Linked DNA regions of Homo sapiens: all the other regions are reported to be linked to region 2. The links are microRNA targets in miRTarBase. Many come from high-throughput screens and were not tested one by one. Region 2 holds a microRNA gene; each other region holds the end of a gene's coding sequence.
Evidence for each region. The annotated mature microRNA hsa-miR-548aq-5p reads GAAAGUAAUUGCUGUUUUUGCC and lies in region 2 at 3,213-3,234, shown strand. An mRNA with a match to its seed (bases 2 to 7 or 8) in the 3' UTR can be bound and repressed. Matches are read on the target gene's strand: a 7mer-m8 pairs with bases 2 to 8, a 7mer-A1 pairs with bases 2 to 7 and ends in A, and an 8mer does both.

Region 1 (5,000 bases), not on the chromosome of region 2:
AAGAAGGTTTCGGCCAGGCACGGTGGCTCACGCCTGTAATCCCAGCACTTTGGGAGGCCGCCGAGCCAGGCAGATCACAAGGTCAGGAGTTTGAGACCAGCCTGACCAACGTGGTGAAATCCCATCTCTACTAAAAATACAAAAATTAGCCGGGCATGGTAGCACACACCTGTAATCCCAGCTACTCAGGAGGCTGAGGCAGGAGAATCACTTGAACCGGGGAGGTGGAGGTTGCAGTGAGCTCACATCACGCCACTGTACTCCAGCCTAGGTGACAGAGCGAGACTCTGTCTCAAAAAAAAAAAAAAAAAACTTTCTTTGGTTGACTAACAATTTTTCATTGTTCTAATGGGTGTCTTCCTCCTTCACAAGGGAGGAAGATCCTCCAAAGTATCTGTGAGTATAATCTTATAACTGGTGTTTTTGTTAAGAAATAATTAGGAGTCACCAGGCACTCCATTTTTTAAGTTCACAAATTTCAAACTTTTTTTTTAAAGATTTACTTCCTCATTTTAATAGGGACAGAAGGATAAAAAGTATATTTCTGCCATCTTAGGGGGATGGAAGTTTTGGTAACTCTCTCTCCTTTGAAGGTCCTGGAATCGTTTATTATAATATATACCATTTAGTATACATGTTGGGCTGTCTGAATGAGAACATACCCATCAGTGTGCACATGTGCTTACAAACATGTTCATTCATTTAGTGAAATTAAGAGTGGAAGCAGGCTGTTTTCAGAAAAAATATTTGAGGGCTGAGTTCCCTCTTTCATTCATCCCATGAGGGTATTACTAGGGGGTTTAATATATTTGGGTTAATGATGAGGGGGAAAAAATAGCATCCTTTTGGGGAAATAGAACCAGACACAATTTAAAGTGGGACCCAAATAGAAACATAATTCTTTTATGAAACAAATGTTTTATTTTCTGTTTGTCACACGGATGCCATCTAAATTTTAAAAGAAATCTAGGCTTCCTCTTATTCTTTATGTTTTTTTTAAAAGCAAGAAGTCAGAGACTTTGTACATCATGATTAACTTCTACATTTGTTTGAGCTATGTGTCACAAGTAATTAAGTTATAAATATTCTGAAGATTAATTGGTGCACACTCTAAGTGCTTTTTAAATTTTACACAGCTTACCTTTCTTTCTGAAGAATGTCCTCACAAAGATAGATTATATCAATTTCTCCACTGATGATGTATTCCAGCAATAAACATAGTCCTAGAATTGTAGAATGTGCACTGCTGCACTCTGTCCTAACAGACAGTAGACAAGGTTTATAATTTTTTTCTATGGGACACTAAAAATACCCTAGGATTTCCTTTAACTTTTTGCACTGACAGGTCTAAAGCAAAGCCACAGAAGCTGCTCTTGCTCAGTAAGTATTGTTAATGCTGCAGTGCATATTAAAATTTCAGAAAACCCAATTATGTACTATCTAGGTGTGGATAGCTCTCATTGTTAGTATCCTAAATCATCTAAAGGCTTGTTTTCTTTCTTTTTTTTTTTTTTACAGACCTAACTACCATAATGAATGCTGCATATTAAGAGAAACCACAAGAAGGTTATATGTTTGGTTGTCTAATATTCTTGGATTTGATATGAACCAACACATAGTCCTTGTTGTCATTGACAGAACCCCAGTTTGTATGTACATTATTCATATTCCTCTCTGTTGTGTTTCGGGGGGAAAAGACATTTTAGCCTTTTTTAAAAGTTACTGATTTAATTTCATGTTATTTGGTTGCATGAAGTTGCCCTTAACCACTAAGGATTATCAAGATTTTTGCGCAGACTTATACATGTCTAGGATCCTTTTATCAAGGCAGTTATGATCATCGTTTTCCTGCCTTGACCCCACCATCATCAAACACTCAGTTAAATATAAATTAACATTTTTTAGATGACCACTCAACATAATGCTTAAGAATGGAATTTCCTCTCTGTGACAGAACCCAGGAATTAATTCCTAAATACATAACGTTGGTATATTGAAGACGAAATTAAAATTGTCCTTCAGTTTTGAGGCCATGTGTAAAGTTTAACCATATTGTAAAATATCTATTCCGTATTAGAAATAGCTAGTTGACAGCTTATACTTCTCAAAATTCATATTGTTATGTACACAAACTAAGTTTCTATATGTGAAGTTAGTGAGTCTTTTTGTGTTACTCCAAAATAAAGGCAATGATTTATTTTTTTCCCAGTGCCAATACAATTTTGAGCTAAGCACTCAAGGTGGATACTTTACATTTTAAAGCTGGAATCAGCAACAGCCCTATGGGAAACCAGACAAAGCATTGACTTTTAAATGTAGACTTTTAAAATAAACTGTTTTCTTTTGGAACTACAATTAGAATAGTTAATATTCATCCTTAAACCATTATTATGTGTACATTATTGTTGCTATTGTGATAATAGAGAATTTTATTTATTTTTATGCCAGCTTATATTGTGAGAACACATTTAGTCAGTTTGGGTTTTATCAATCCTGTTAATGCTTGTCCTTGGAACATCTTTCGCGTATTCACGGTTTGTAGTTGAAAAGTTTACTGTAAAAAAATCAAAAACAAAAAAATGTATTGTTTTTACAGAATAAATTTATTGGAATGTGTACTGGGAGTAAGATTTGAGGTTGTAAGCAAACTAAGTTAGTGTAATTTGGCTTCATATATGTAACGTGAGGTATTAATGTAATTCATATATTAAAGCAAAAATTGTTCACAGCAAGCTGACAATAGAATCAAGTGCAGGTGAGGGTTTTTCTTTTTCTTTCTTTTTTTTTTTTTAAACACTCTCTGGGTTTTAGATTATTTGAAAACACTGTAGGGGATGATGGGGAGATGACTACATGATTTGCTTACACTTACATATTTACCAGCCCAGTGGACCCTAGATTTTGTAATTTGATATTATCCATGCATTGATTTGTATCCCATTTTCTTTTGGTTTTCTTGATGAGAGCTAATAAAAACATGAGAAAATGTGAGCAGACCTAAAAGCCTAGGGCCGTTAATAATGATGATGGTGATGATGGCAGCTAAGGGTATGAAAGCACCAGTCCATTTATCATTCCAGGGCACAGTGAGGAGGTGGCTGTTTGTATTTTTGGTGTGTTTCTTTCATTTAGTGAATACTGATTTTCTCTAGTATACTCAACATACAATCCCAAACATGAAAAGTTCATAAAAAGATAGTAGGGATGTCGATCTAATACTTCTTCCTTAAAAGGTCCTTTTTAATTTTGAATATTTGAATGTATTTTTTAATTAATGAAATTTAATTCATCAAAAGACCTCTTCATTGCTCACACTGAAACATAAGGGGAATGTAGATGGCATTTTGAATTGGAATATACAACTCACAAATTTTCTTTAAAAGCGTTTTATGTGTATATATGAAATGTTTCAAATTTAATAAGATTTGTCTTTATAAGAGGCCAAAAATAATTTTATTAAAAATATACACAGAAATACAATAGAAATATTTCCAGCCACCAATAAAACAAATGTTCATTAAGGATAGAGATAAAGTTACTGATCCCTATTTAGCTGTTTAAATTCACACAAAAAAATTTAGTAAAAGTAATTTTCTTGAAACAGCAGCAAATAATAAACTTTCCTTGGGAAAACATTTTTCAAACAACATTTAAAAATATTCTGATGATTTGCCTTTTATATTGAGTTTAATAATGAAGCATATTCATCTTATTTGCAAAAGTTACTCCTCCAGTCTGCATTCACTGTTTTGAATTTTTTAATATGCACAGGCCATATTCTCTTTTGAATAGTTTCATTTCATGCTCACTACTGTTGGCACTAAATTGTAATTTTTTACACTTATAATTATTTTATATGTCAAACAATATTGAGATGGATGATCAAGTTTATTCACAAATGATTTTGAATATATTTCTTTAAACAAACTGTTTCTCAAGAATTTCCATTTTCCTTCAAAAAAAATTTACACAATACCATATAGCTCACACATACAGTGCAGAGCAAGAATGTACATATTCTTAAGTACTCACGTATGAGAAGAGAGTGAAATGGGACAAAATATCAGTACCAGTATAACAAAAGTTAGTAATTTAGAAAGGAGGAACATGAAGTAATATTTTTATTCCACTTTTTCTTCTGCCTTTGTTTTTATGAAGAACTCTGGTTTGTAGATACAACGATAGGCCAAGAGCTGAGGAAGAACTCCATATGCTATGTTTAATGCTAAAAAAAGGATTTTTGCTTCTTCAGGGACTCTGTAGACATAAGCAGTTCTAGCATGAAGAGATGCACCAATGTGAGAAAACTGAGCCTGTTGCATTTAAAAAAAAAAAATTGAGTAAGCATGAAACGTGTTCAGTTGGATGCATGATGAGTTCTGAATGGTTCATTCAGGCTACGTTTCTGTGCCCTCAAAACCAGTCTCACCTGCAGGCAAAATACCTTCAAACAATCCAGAGTCTTTAATGTCAGAGTCTTTCATTAAATTTAGTCCTTGATTAAATTTAGGGCCATTCTTGATATGACTGTTCAAATAAAGTAGATATTATTTAGTGTAGTTTTATCATGCCAGTTGTGTTTTTTAACCATCAAGTGCCCCTTACCGAACATTAGTGGCTCAATCTAATAGAAAAATCTGAATAAAATCTCAAATTTTTTTCTGATTTGCGTTCTGGAGATCCTGCATACAGACTCAGTTGTGGTTCACAAATTGCGTTCCAATAAAAATGAAGAAAGCGCAGAGTTTTAAAAAACAAATATTTTTAGCATAAACTATTGAAAGGGAAGCACTGGGGGGACCTCAGCTTCATTTATCAGTCTTTCATCTACTCCTTGCAGCAAGAGCTCATACCCTTTCCCTATGTGTTTTTTGTTTATTCATTTATTCATGTATTTGTTTTTTCTGCAGCTTTTAAAATATTAAGGGTTGTTTGTAAGATAAGGTTGTTACCAACTTGGGTGGAGGTAGGAGTACGGTTGCTCTTTGTAAAATGGCAAA
Region 2 (5,162 bases):
CTTCTAGTCTTAGGCTTGTTTACTTTTTAAGTTCTGTGACTGTTCTTTGGATTTTTAAAAGCCGTTTGCTGGGTGCCATGGCTCATGCCTATAATTTCAGCATTTTGGGTAGCCAAGGTGGGAAGATTGCTTGAGGCCAAGAGTTCAAGACCAGTCTGGGCAACATAGTGAGTCTCCCTCTCTACCAAAAAAGGATAAATTAGCCAGATGTGGTCATGCACATCTGTAGTCCTAGCTGCTAGAGAGGCTGAGGTGGGAGGATTACTTCAGCCCAGGAGTTTGAAGCTGCAGTGAGCTATAATTGTGCCACTGCACTCCAGCCTGGGCAACAGTGAGACCCTGTCTCTAACTAAAAGACAAATAGAACAGAAACCTTTCCACAAGATCATCTATTACAGTCTCTTTGTGCTGCTCTGACTGTGACTGCCTAGAGGGGCTCCTCCTCTCATAATTTGTATGTGCTGGTAATTAAGGCACCTCCACCTTGGGTGTCACAGGTGCTATGGGAAACATAACAGACTCTGGGTGAGTCTTGAGTCTGTTACCAATTTTCCAGATTACACAGGCAAGCCATTTAACTTCTCAGTCTTTTTAAAATCTGGTGCCTTGGAATAAAGGCCTATGGGGTCATAACCAAAGGAGCAAATAAGATGCTTGTGAAAATACTTTCCAATGTATAAAATCCTTTTTAAATATAACCCACTACTCTTTCTCACTCTGACATGGTGAATCTCTGTTCGTTGGTTTTGCTTTTCCTATCACATCCCATTTTCCTTGAGAGAACTGGAGTTTCCCGTAAATCACCAGATATGCTCCCTCGGGTTGGCCGGTCCTGCTCGACCAGTCCTGAGTCCTAACTATGTGGTGTGCTATGACAGAGCAAGGGTAGAGACTTCATTTTTCTGATGTAAATTACACGCCCGCCACCACATCCCTTCTTATGAGACGTAGATTCTGTTGACATAGGAGCCTAAGAGAGAGACCATCCCCCAGTTCTGCTTCCTTGAGGACATAGAGAGAAGGCTCAGGATTCGTTTCCCTTCCAGGGGTTCCCAGATCTTATTGGGTTTGTGTGGGCCTCTGGTCCCCAGGGGCCGAACTTTGGGAAGAGGGATACAGTGGCTGCTGCTATAGGCAGTTGGCACTTCTTTAGAGATAAAATGTGAAAAGATGGTTTGTGGATTTTGCCTAATAGATAGTAAGCATGACAGAAACACAGACCTCTTGGTTCATGTGGTTTTGTGACTGAGATGAAATTGTTTCTTTTTTTTTTTTTTTTTTTTTTTGGAGACAGGGTCTCATTCTATCATCCAGGCGGGAGTGCAGTGGCAGTGACCACAGTTCACTGCAGCATTGACCTCCTGGGCTCAATCGATCCTTCCACCTCAGCCTCCTGAGTAGCTGGGACCACAGGTGTGCATCACCATTAATTAAAATTTTTTGTAGAAATAGGATCTTGGTATGTTGCCCAGGATGGTCTTGAACTCCTGGGCTCAAGCTATCCTTCTGCCTCAAACCTCCAAAAGTGTTGGGATTACAAGCGTGAGCCACCGTGCCAGGCCATTTCTAATCTTTGGAGACCATGATTTCTCTGTCTGTAAAATGCACTTGAGAGCAAATTGAAGAGTGGCCTTTGAGCTGAATACCTTTACTTGGTTATGGCATTCACTATTTAAGAGTTACAGGTTCTTCTGAGTGTTTGCTGTCTCTTTATAACTTCCGTTTTAAACAATAGATTCACCTTTTTTTTAAAAAAAATTTGGAGACAGGGTGTCATTCTGTCTCTTAGGCTGGAGTGCAGTGGCATGATCATGGATGTCTCATTGCAACCTCAAACTCGAGGGGCCAAGTCCTCCTTCCACCTCAACTCCTTGGCCTAATCCATCCTCCCATCCTCCTCAGCCTCCCCATGCTCAGCTAATTTTTAAAAATTTTTATAGAGGTGGGGGTTTTGCTGTGTTGCCCAGGCTGATCTCAAATGCCTGGCCTCAAGTGATTCTCCCACCTTGGTCTCTCAAAATGTTGGGATTACAGGCGTGGACCACCGCGCCCCGCCCAGGTTCAACCTTTTTTTTGTTTTGATTTGTTTTGAGACGGAGTCTCACTCTGTCGCCCAGGCTGGAGTGCAGTGGCGTAATCTCAGCTCACTGCAATCTCCACCTCCCAGGTTCAAGCAATTCTCCTGTCTCAGCCTCCTGAGTAGCTGGGACTACAGGCGCATGCCACCACATCTGGCTAATTTCTGTATTTTTAGAAGAGATGGAGTTTCACCATATTGGTCAGGCTAGTCTCCCTGACCTCAGGTGATCCACCCGCCTCAGCCTCCCAAAGTGCTGGGATGACAGGCGTAAAAGCCACCACGCCTGGCTTAGATTCAACCTTTTAAAGGTGCTTATTGATCTATCAGAAGCTTCAAAGTGAAAGCATGATACTCCACCACTAGAGGGCAGTGCTGTCCTAGTCACATGATCTGAATCTACAAATTGCTGAATTTGAAGCTTCCTTCAGTCCTCCACAGAATTAGACAGAAAATTTATATCATTTTTATATGTATTAAGTATATACATATTCAAAATATAATTTAAATATTTAAGTAGTATTAAAGGACCTTTTAAAAATACTTAGATTGACTTAAAAGGGTTAACATGCAGTTCTTTATCATTATCATATTCTTTACCAAGTTAAACTGAATCCCACAGAAAAAAATCTATCCTGAAGGTTTGTAGTTCATCATCAGCCCTCGGGTTAGCTCAGCATCGTGACACCTCTAACTACATACTCATGTCGCCCAGGTTCTTCACTGTTTCACTTACAGGGATGCCATGCATCTGGCTGAGGATGTTTTAATTAACAATAGAGATACTCTTGGGAAAGTTCTCAACTTTCCTTTTTCCTTTTTCTGTAGGAGGTAAAGAGCTAAATAAATGTTTATATAGTGTCATGATGCCACTAAGAAAATAACAGCCCCTTTGTCTCTTTTCCCTCAATCATAAGGAAGTTATGACCTGAATAGAAAGACAAAGCAGTACCCTTCTGTGTTTTTCTCAAGTGAGAACATTTTTTTCTTTTGCATAAAGTCACAAAAGTGTATATAAGGGCTGAGGATCTGGTAATTGTCCACATTTCAGATTTTTTTAAGGAAATATTCCTAGAAGTATAATTGGATTAAAGAGTAATATAAGGATTAAGACACTTGCTATTTAGGTTGGTGTGAAAGTAATTGCTGTTTTTGCCATTACTTTCAGTGGCAAAAACTGCAATTACTTTTGCATTAACCTAAAATAATCATTGCCAATGCTTTCCAAAATGGCTGCACTAAAATATATCCCCTGAACAGTACATGAAATCATTTTCAACCCTAATACATTCCATAATTTCACCCAACATATTCCAGAATTGTATTCCTCATTTCAGCAGCCTTATTTTAAAATATTTTATAATTATAAACTTTTTTTTCCAAGTAGAAGGTATGTTGATCAATATTTCCCCAAATATATTACTGTACTGGTAAGACATATTAAAAAATGGTTCAGTGGTCAAATACATTTTTCAAATGTTGTATACTTGTCCCTTTCTTGGAGATTTGTGAAGCACACATGCATTTTAAGGCTCTGAGAAGTCCTGTAGTAAAGAAATCTGTTTAACTTGATGTTTTATAATTTATTTACATAACTACAGAATCCTTTAACATCTTATGGAAATGGGATTGGATTTTAGAAGATAGTAATGATGGTGGGAAGTTGTTCTGGAAGGTTTTAGGAAACACTGTAGTATTATAAGGATTTCTTCTGAACTTGTGTTGGTCTCTGGTCATCGTTGTGGAGAACAGAATCCACAGAGTAGCTAGATTAAGCACAAAAGAATGCATTGAGGTATATAGATAGATCACAGAATTGTCGGACAGGCTGAAGAAACAGGCTGCAGGTGGAGCTTCTTGATAGTCTGCAGAACTGGTCTGCCAAGAGAGCTGTTGCCTATGCCACCATCGAGAAGCTTCTCCCACAACTGCCTCTGCCAGATTGGGAAGCCACTGGGTCCACAGTTGTGTGTCTCTATCCTAGCAGGAAGTGGGGCTGGGCAGTTTGTTTTCAGTCCTATTTTAGGAAGGAGGGACTTTACACTAAGGTGAACTATCAAATGTGGAGAGAATGTCTAAAAGACGGCAGCTACAATTAGCAGGCATCCAAGAAGACAGCTGTGTGTTGTGAACACCTTGGGATATAGGTCAGAAAACTGGGGTGTAGCCCTGGCCTTGCCTCTTAACTGCTGCATGACCTTGGGCAAGTCCACTTTCAAACTTGCGATCTCATCTCTAAACAGGATATAACTCACTGACTTGGAGTGAAGATAAAATGAAAGTAATAGGTGTGAATATACCAGGGAAAACTATAAAGTATTAAATGAAATCAGTAAAAAGTATTTTTCACAACCCAGGTTTGTCTCTAGACCAGGGGTTGGCAAACTTTTTCTGTAAAGCACTAGCTAGTAAATATTTTTGGCTTGTTAGATGATACTATCCCTTTAGTACCTATTCAACTCTGCAAGAGCAGCCATAGACAATATGTAAATGGATGAGCATGGCTGTGTTCCAATAAAACTTTATTTATGGACACTGAGATTTGAATTTTGTATAATTTTCACATGTCACGGAATATTCTTTTTATTTTTTTTCCAACCATTTAAAAAAAGGGAAAAACATTCTTAGCTTGTAGACTATACAAAAACAGGTGGCTGGCTGGATTTGACCTATCAACCGTAGTTTGTTGGTCCACGTTCTAGATCATTATACTTAAAATATTTTAAAATGTATTTAAATTTAAATTTAAAATATTTTAAATTGTTTTGCCTTAATGTAGTGGCAAATAAATTTGGGGCTTTGATGATATTGTCTAAATAGTTTTATTGCTATTCACTGGACCTGGTAGTAGCTTCCTCTTTGATAGTAGAATTAAATATGCTTAGTGGCCGTGTATAGCACCTTGGGCTTTATTTAGGTGAAAGCATCCCGAGAAGGATGAGTTTGCTACCCAGCCATCGGGTTCTTAGAACCTCCACATTTTCTCCCATCTTCATGTGTGCCTTTGGTTTTGGAAAAGGGATGGGGCAGTCAGATACTTCTTTTATGGGAAAAGTTGCATTTGGAGACATTCCCATACCCATGC
Region 3 (5,000 bases), not on the chromosome of region 2:
AATTAACACACTAGGTTAGAACCTCAATTGTATTTGATACATTATATACTGGATTTCTATTACTAAAAAGCCAGTTGGAATATGGCCTATACGAACCAAAGAGTGTATACAAAATGGAAGTGGTCATCAGGCAATAATTGTTTCCTTGGAACTCTGCACCGACTGTCCATGCTCTGTGGGGACTTACACATTCAAGTTTGACAGTTGAAAAACCAACTGGAGCTGCTTTTCCAAGAATGTTCTGTTGTCCTTCAAATAGAATTCCATGTTATTTCTTTCTTGCCTTAAGCTCTTATATCTTTCAAATGACCTAAGCTGATGAACTGGAGTAAACACAAACTGCTGCAGTTATCAATTAGCAAGCCTAGTTCACCAATACTTCAAAATAAACAGACTTCACAAGTTTATTTCCATTCCTAACAGTGGAATAATAACTTAATTTTGTTTACTTTTGTCTTTGTAGATTTCTGTCTGCAGCTCCAGTAAGAATGCCAAATCAGATGGCTTTTAGGAAATGCTCATAGGAGAGAACTAGAGTTATTCCTCACACTGAATTTAAGTCTTACCAGATTTCTGCAGGTTCATATGTTAACGTTCTGATCTAGCCTACCTGTAAGTCTAGTTTATTTCTGTACACACTTCCAAATACTCTTCATAAATTTTCACTTCTGACTGAAATATAACACCTTGATTGATAGTTTCATAACTATAGAATTTTAGTGAAGATATAAAACATTAATGAATACTTGTGTTTTAATACATCACTACTCCTATTTATTACATGTTCCAATAAACCAATAGAATGAAGCACTAAGACACGGTGAAATCTAAACTTAAAACCCAGATGGAACTGCCATATAGATTACAAATGGGTCTCCCCACCACAGAATTCATATACAAAAGCCCTTCGGTATGTAGCTTTTCCTGAACAAATACATTAATACACTTTTTGTTTTTTACATTTGTAAAAATTCAAGGTTTTAATAACATTTCTTTGCAAGACATTTGGTATAAGGTGGTTAATAAATATTAGGAAACAAACACTGTACCAAAATGGATATGACTTGTGAATAAACCCTAAATAAAGTGGCTTTTGGAAGAACTGGATTTTGCAGCAACCAACTTTATAAAGAGGTCCATCCACTCTCAATGGAAAACACCCAAGCATACCATTCACTAGGTTCGGATATCACCATAATATAATGAATTCTAAGAGTATGGGGTTTGATTTATGGGCAACCCCAGTACAATCTAGGAGCCCAACATGATGAAAAATACTAAAAGAATGCTTCACCATCCCTCAGGCCATTACATTTCCACCTTATCCTACTCTTGTATTAGGATATATGTATACAAATGTCAACTACTAATGTAGTTAAATTTCAGGAGAAGCATGCTTAAAGATACACAAGGAATGTTTAGCCTTAGTTTTTGATAGTATTATCCAAAGTGTGAGTTGAAAGAAATTAAGCAAATAATGTTAACAAACGAAAGACAGATACACAGCATTAGTGGGGGTATAAAAACCTCACCTTTCAATTAACTTGAATAATGTTCTATTTTCTATTCTACAACTGAGCGCTAGGGAGCTAAACTATTTGTGAATTACATCTTCTTTAAGAAGACACACACACACGCACACACATACATACACTTATTCAACCCCTCTATGCAGCCAAAAACCAATACAAGTCCTTTTCTAAAAGACTTTAAAGGTGATTAATATTCATTTAATGCTCTTAATGTATTTGGAAATCAGAAAATTATTTTTCACCACAGATTCCAAAGAACTTCAAATAGAGCTCAATTTAGTAGAAAGAATTGGTGTACCTGAAAGCATTTAACCCACACATTTTCAATAAACCCTACATCTTACCTGCAAGATTCATATCATGAGAAACAAATTTCATTTTATTAAGACAAAACCTTACTGTCCAATTTATACTCCCATCAGACAGACTATGTATTGGTATGTTAAAAGTACTTTTGAATAAAAGTGGTGAGAAAGAAACCAAAAAAGTACTTTATATATAGTTAAAAGGTTACATAATATAGGCAACTAAATATTAACTTTTAGTTTCTTTTTTATAAGATCTTAAAGGCAAGTAAGAAGGAAGAGAAAATGGAAGTACCAATAAATTATATTTAATATACCATTTTGGCTTCAGAAGAGGATTTACCTACAGCTTCTGATCAAATTTGTTGGATCATATCAATCATACTTAAGTGGTAAGAAATCATACTTTTCACCTTTTAAAGGACTTACATGTCACAATATAGGATGTAGAGTCCATCAATAGATAGGTACATATTTTGTAATGAAAACATCTTGTGTAACTATTAATTGCATGATTTTCATATTAAGGTTTAAATACAGGTGTTTTGAGTCTTTCTAAAAATAACAATATAAAGTATTGTTTTAGGTGGTCATTTGCATAGCAAACTATTAAACTAGAAACTCAGTGGTTCTAGGAAAACTTCATATTATGAATAGTTCCAGAAAAATGTATTCAAATCACTTCTCTTACAAAACTGTAACCTTTATTTGTTGATCCAACAGTACGTTAACCACTTTTACCCCATCCCCACTTTACACGGTACACCAACCTGAACAGATTTTGTGCCACAATTTCATTCAAAGGGTTTGTCATTCACTTTATGATTGTGCTGGATAATCTAGATGTAAGCAAGTCTGGAGATTTTAAAATACGGGTCCCCTGTATGAGAGTAGCATAGTTTATAGCATACTTTTAAAAATGGCATTCGGTAATTTTGCCTTCTGGACAGAAAGATATCTTCAAATTGCAAACACATCTATTTCCACAAAACAATTTGGTCAGGAAATTTTATTTGAACATTCTAAAGCAATAATGCTTTAGATGTTACTTAAGTGTCCCAGACAGGATTAACAAAATTAAGTGTCTCTAAATTACAAATTTGGCTCCTGTAGGAGTCTCAGAAAATAAACAGAAGAAAACAACCCCCCTCCCAAAAGAAGTATGACACACACATTTTGAAGAAACCCCAATGTTTCATGCAATGGTAGGCAAGATGTAAAAGCCCACCCAAATCACACATTTCTACACCAATCATCATAAGAAAAAAGTACTCTGTAGTCGATCTGTACATCCAAATGCATTTGGGAATCTACACCTACGTTACATTATTTAATGTTATATACATTTATTACCCACCCCCCTTGTTTTTAATAATTTCTTATGTAAAACCTTCATTCAAACCCAAAAGATTTAAGACTAACTTGGGGGGAAAAAAGATAATCACTTTAGACATTCAGTTAAAATGTAGTTTATCTAAATCTCAAAATGTTTAATAAAAACAAGTATCTTCTCCATTTAACACTTTGCTTTCTAACTGTACAGTAAATTGCATTGTAGAGAGTACACTTCTGTCTTCAAACTGTATCTTCTTTGGATGGAATTAAGATGTAACTGTATAGTTTTAAGATAAATAAATGGGAAGTTGGTCCAACTAAGATGACAGCAGATATATTACATGCAGGATTTAATATTTTCTAATTCTCTCTTTTAAAAAAAAGGATGCTGTTGGATTGGGAAAAAAAAAAAGTCAAAAAAGAACCCAGATTCAATATATAAAAATGTCCCACAATAGGTCGACAATGGCAGTAAAAATAAGAGGAAAAAAGTAATCTTTCTGGAACATCATTTTTCAATAACATAGAAACACTAAGTGCCAGGAAGATTCCTATTCATGTAATTTTAGCATCCAAGTTTCCCTCTATTTATTTTATTGGAACAAATGCTTTAAATAAACTATTTGTCCTCTTCACTGAAGAGAGCTGGTCTATTTCATCTTTAATGAGCTAGTTTTTGGGAAGATTAGCCATGTACTGTAGTAATGCCTACTGCATAAAATCCAAGCATTTGCTGTGAACAGTTGGAGAAAGCAGTCAGGAAGAACCTAGGATCAATGGAAATAGATGTTACTTTAAGCCACCGACGAAAGAGAGACCCACAAAGTACCCAGTGTGTTAAAGCCCAAATCTCTTCTTGCGTTTGTTTGTTTTTGCTGTGCAAGTTCCACCCCTATGAAAAAGAAATTGATCCAAAGTTCCAGGTTTTCTTGGGTCTCTAGTCAATTTTCACATTAGTATAGATTTTTCGGACAAAGGCACTTGTTCCCATGTAACCAATCGCTCCTGCAAAGATAAAATAAGATGTTTTGAAACAAATACATACAGAGCAGTATCCATCATTTAAAAACACTAAATACTCTATGCTCTGGAAAGTTATTCTTTTTTAAAGAAAATATCCTTATGTTAGTATTCTCTCTGAACTTACTAAAACTGTATCATTTGCTTTGCAAATCACCTGATACCATAATACACTGAGTCTGACCATCATACGCCAAGTCTAATCAAGTAGCAATTATTTCTTGTATAATCAGTAACTACAGAATTAAAATACATCTCTTATAAAGCAAGAATAATTTGATAATGGCAAAAGGTTGTTAAATCAAAAAACATGCCTTCTTTGATTTGAAGATATACTATTCTAGGTCATTAAAGTAAAAATCAATATATCTTCCCAAAATCCAATAGATAAATAGTTAGAAGTGACTGAAAATTCTCTTAAGGAAGGACAGGGAACCATGTCCCAATAGCAGTTGAAGCTCTAGAGAAGAGGCATTTTCTGACAGCTTCTTTTTTATTTTTAAGTTGTAGAAGCTGTGTAGTTGGTAGTAGGGATGACATATTTGCGGGAATAGACAGGACAGAGAGGTAAGTGGGTCAGAAGTTTTGAAATGTTGTTTTTTAACAATTAGCCTCAACCAGAGCTTAAAACACCAGAAATCAGGGATGTTTGTTTTGTTAAGTAAAATATTTATCTCCTGTGTCTAAAAGAGTGCCTGGCATATAAGATACTTGGTAAATATTTGTTGAATGAATGAATGAACTAGATGGTTCTTTATTGCAAATATAGGTTGGTGCAAAAGTATTTGCAGCTTTACAATTACTTTTG

Region 1: the mRNA of TM6SF1 is a reported target of hsa-miR-548aq-5p. Seed matches in the 3' UTR shown: 7mer-m8 at 3,584-3,590.
Region 3: miRTarBase lists TM9SF3 as a target of hsa-miR-548aq-5p. Seed matches in the 3' UTR shown: 7mer-m8 at 3,661-3,667 and 7mer-A1 at 2,408-2,414.

The regions. Positions count from the first base shown.
Region 1 is chr15:83,135,794-83,140,793 of GRCh38, reverse strand. It overlaps TM6SF1 (transmembrane 6 superfamily member 1), which reads right to left. Exons shown (of 10, transcript NM_023003.5): 10 at 3,386-4,313. The coding sequence ends at 4,122. HDGFL3 (HDGF like 3) reads left to right here. Exons shown (of 6, transcript NM_016073.4): 6 at 1,519-5,000. The coding sequence ends at 1,524. Among named protein-coding and RNA genes, the nearest start is that of TM6SF1, 31 kb to the right of the region's middle.
Region 2 is chr3:185,765,955-185,771,116 of GRCh38, reverse strand. MIR548AQ (microRNA 548aq) reads left to right here and starts at 3,213; the gene lies at 3,213-3,270. The region is part of intron 2 of IGF2BP2 (insulin like growth factor 2 mRNA binding protein 2); the gene reads left to right. RefSeq lists enhancers at 810-1,310, 1,311-1,811.
Region 3 is chr10:96,518,154-96,523,153 of GRCh38, forward strand. It overlaps TM9SF3 (transmembrane 9 superfamily member 3), which reads right to left. Exons shown (of 15, transcript NM_020123.4): 15 at 1-4,177. The coding sequence ends at 4,110. Among named protein-coding and RNA genes, the nearest start is that of TLL2, 6.7 kb to the left of the region's middle.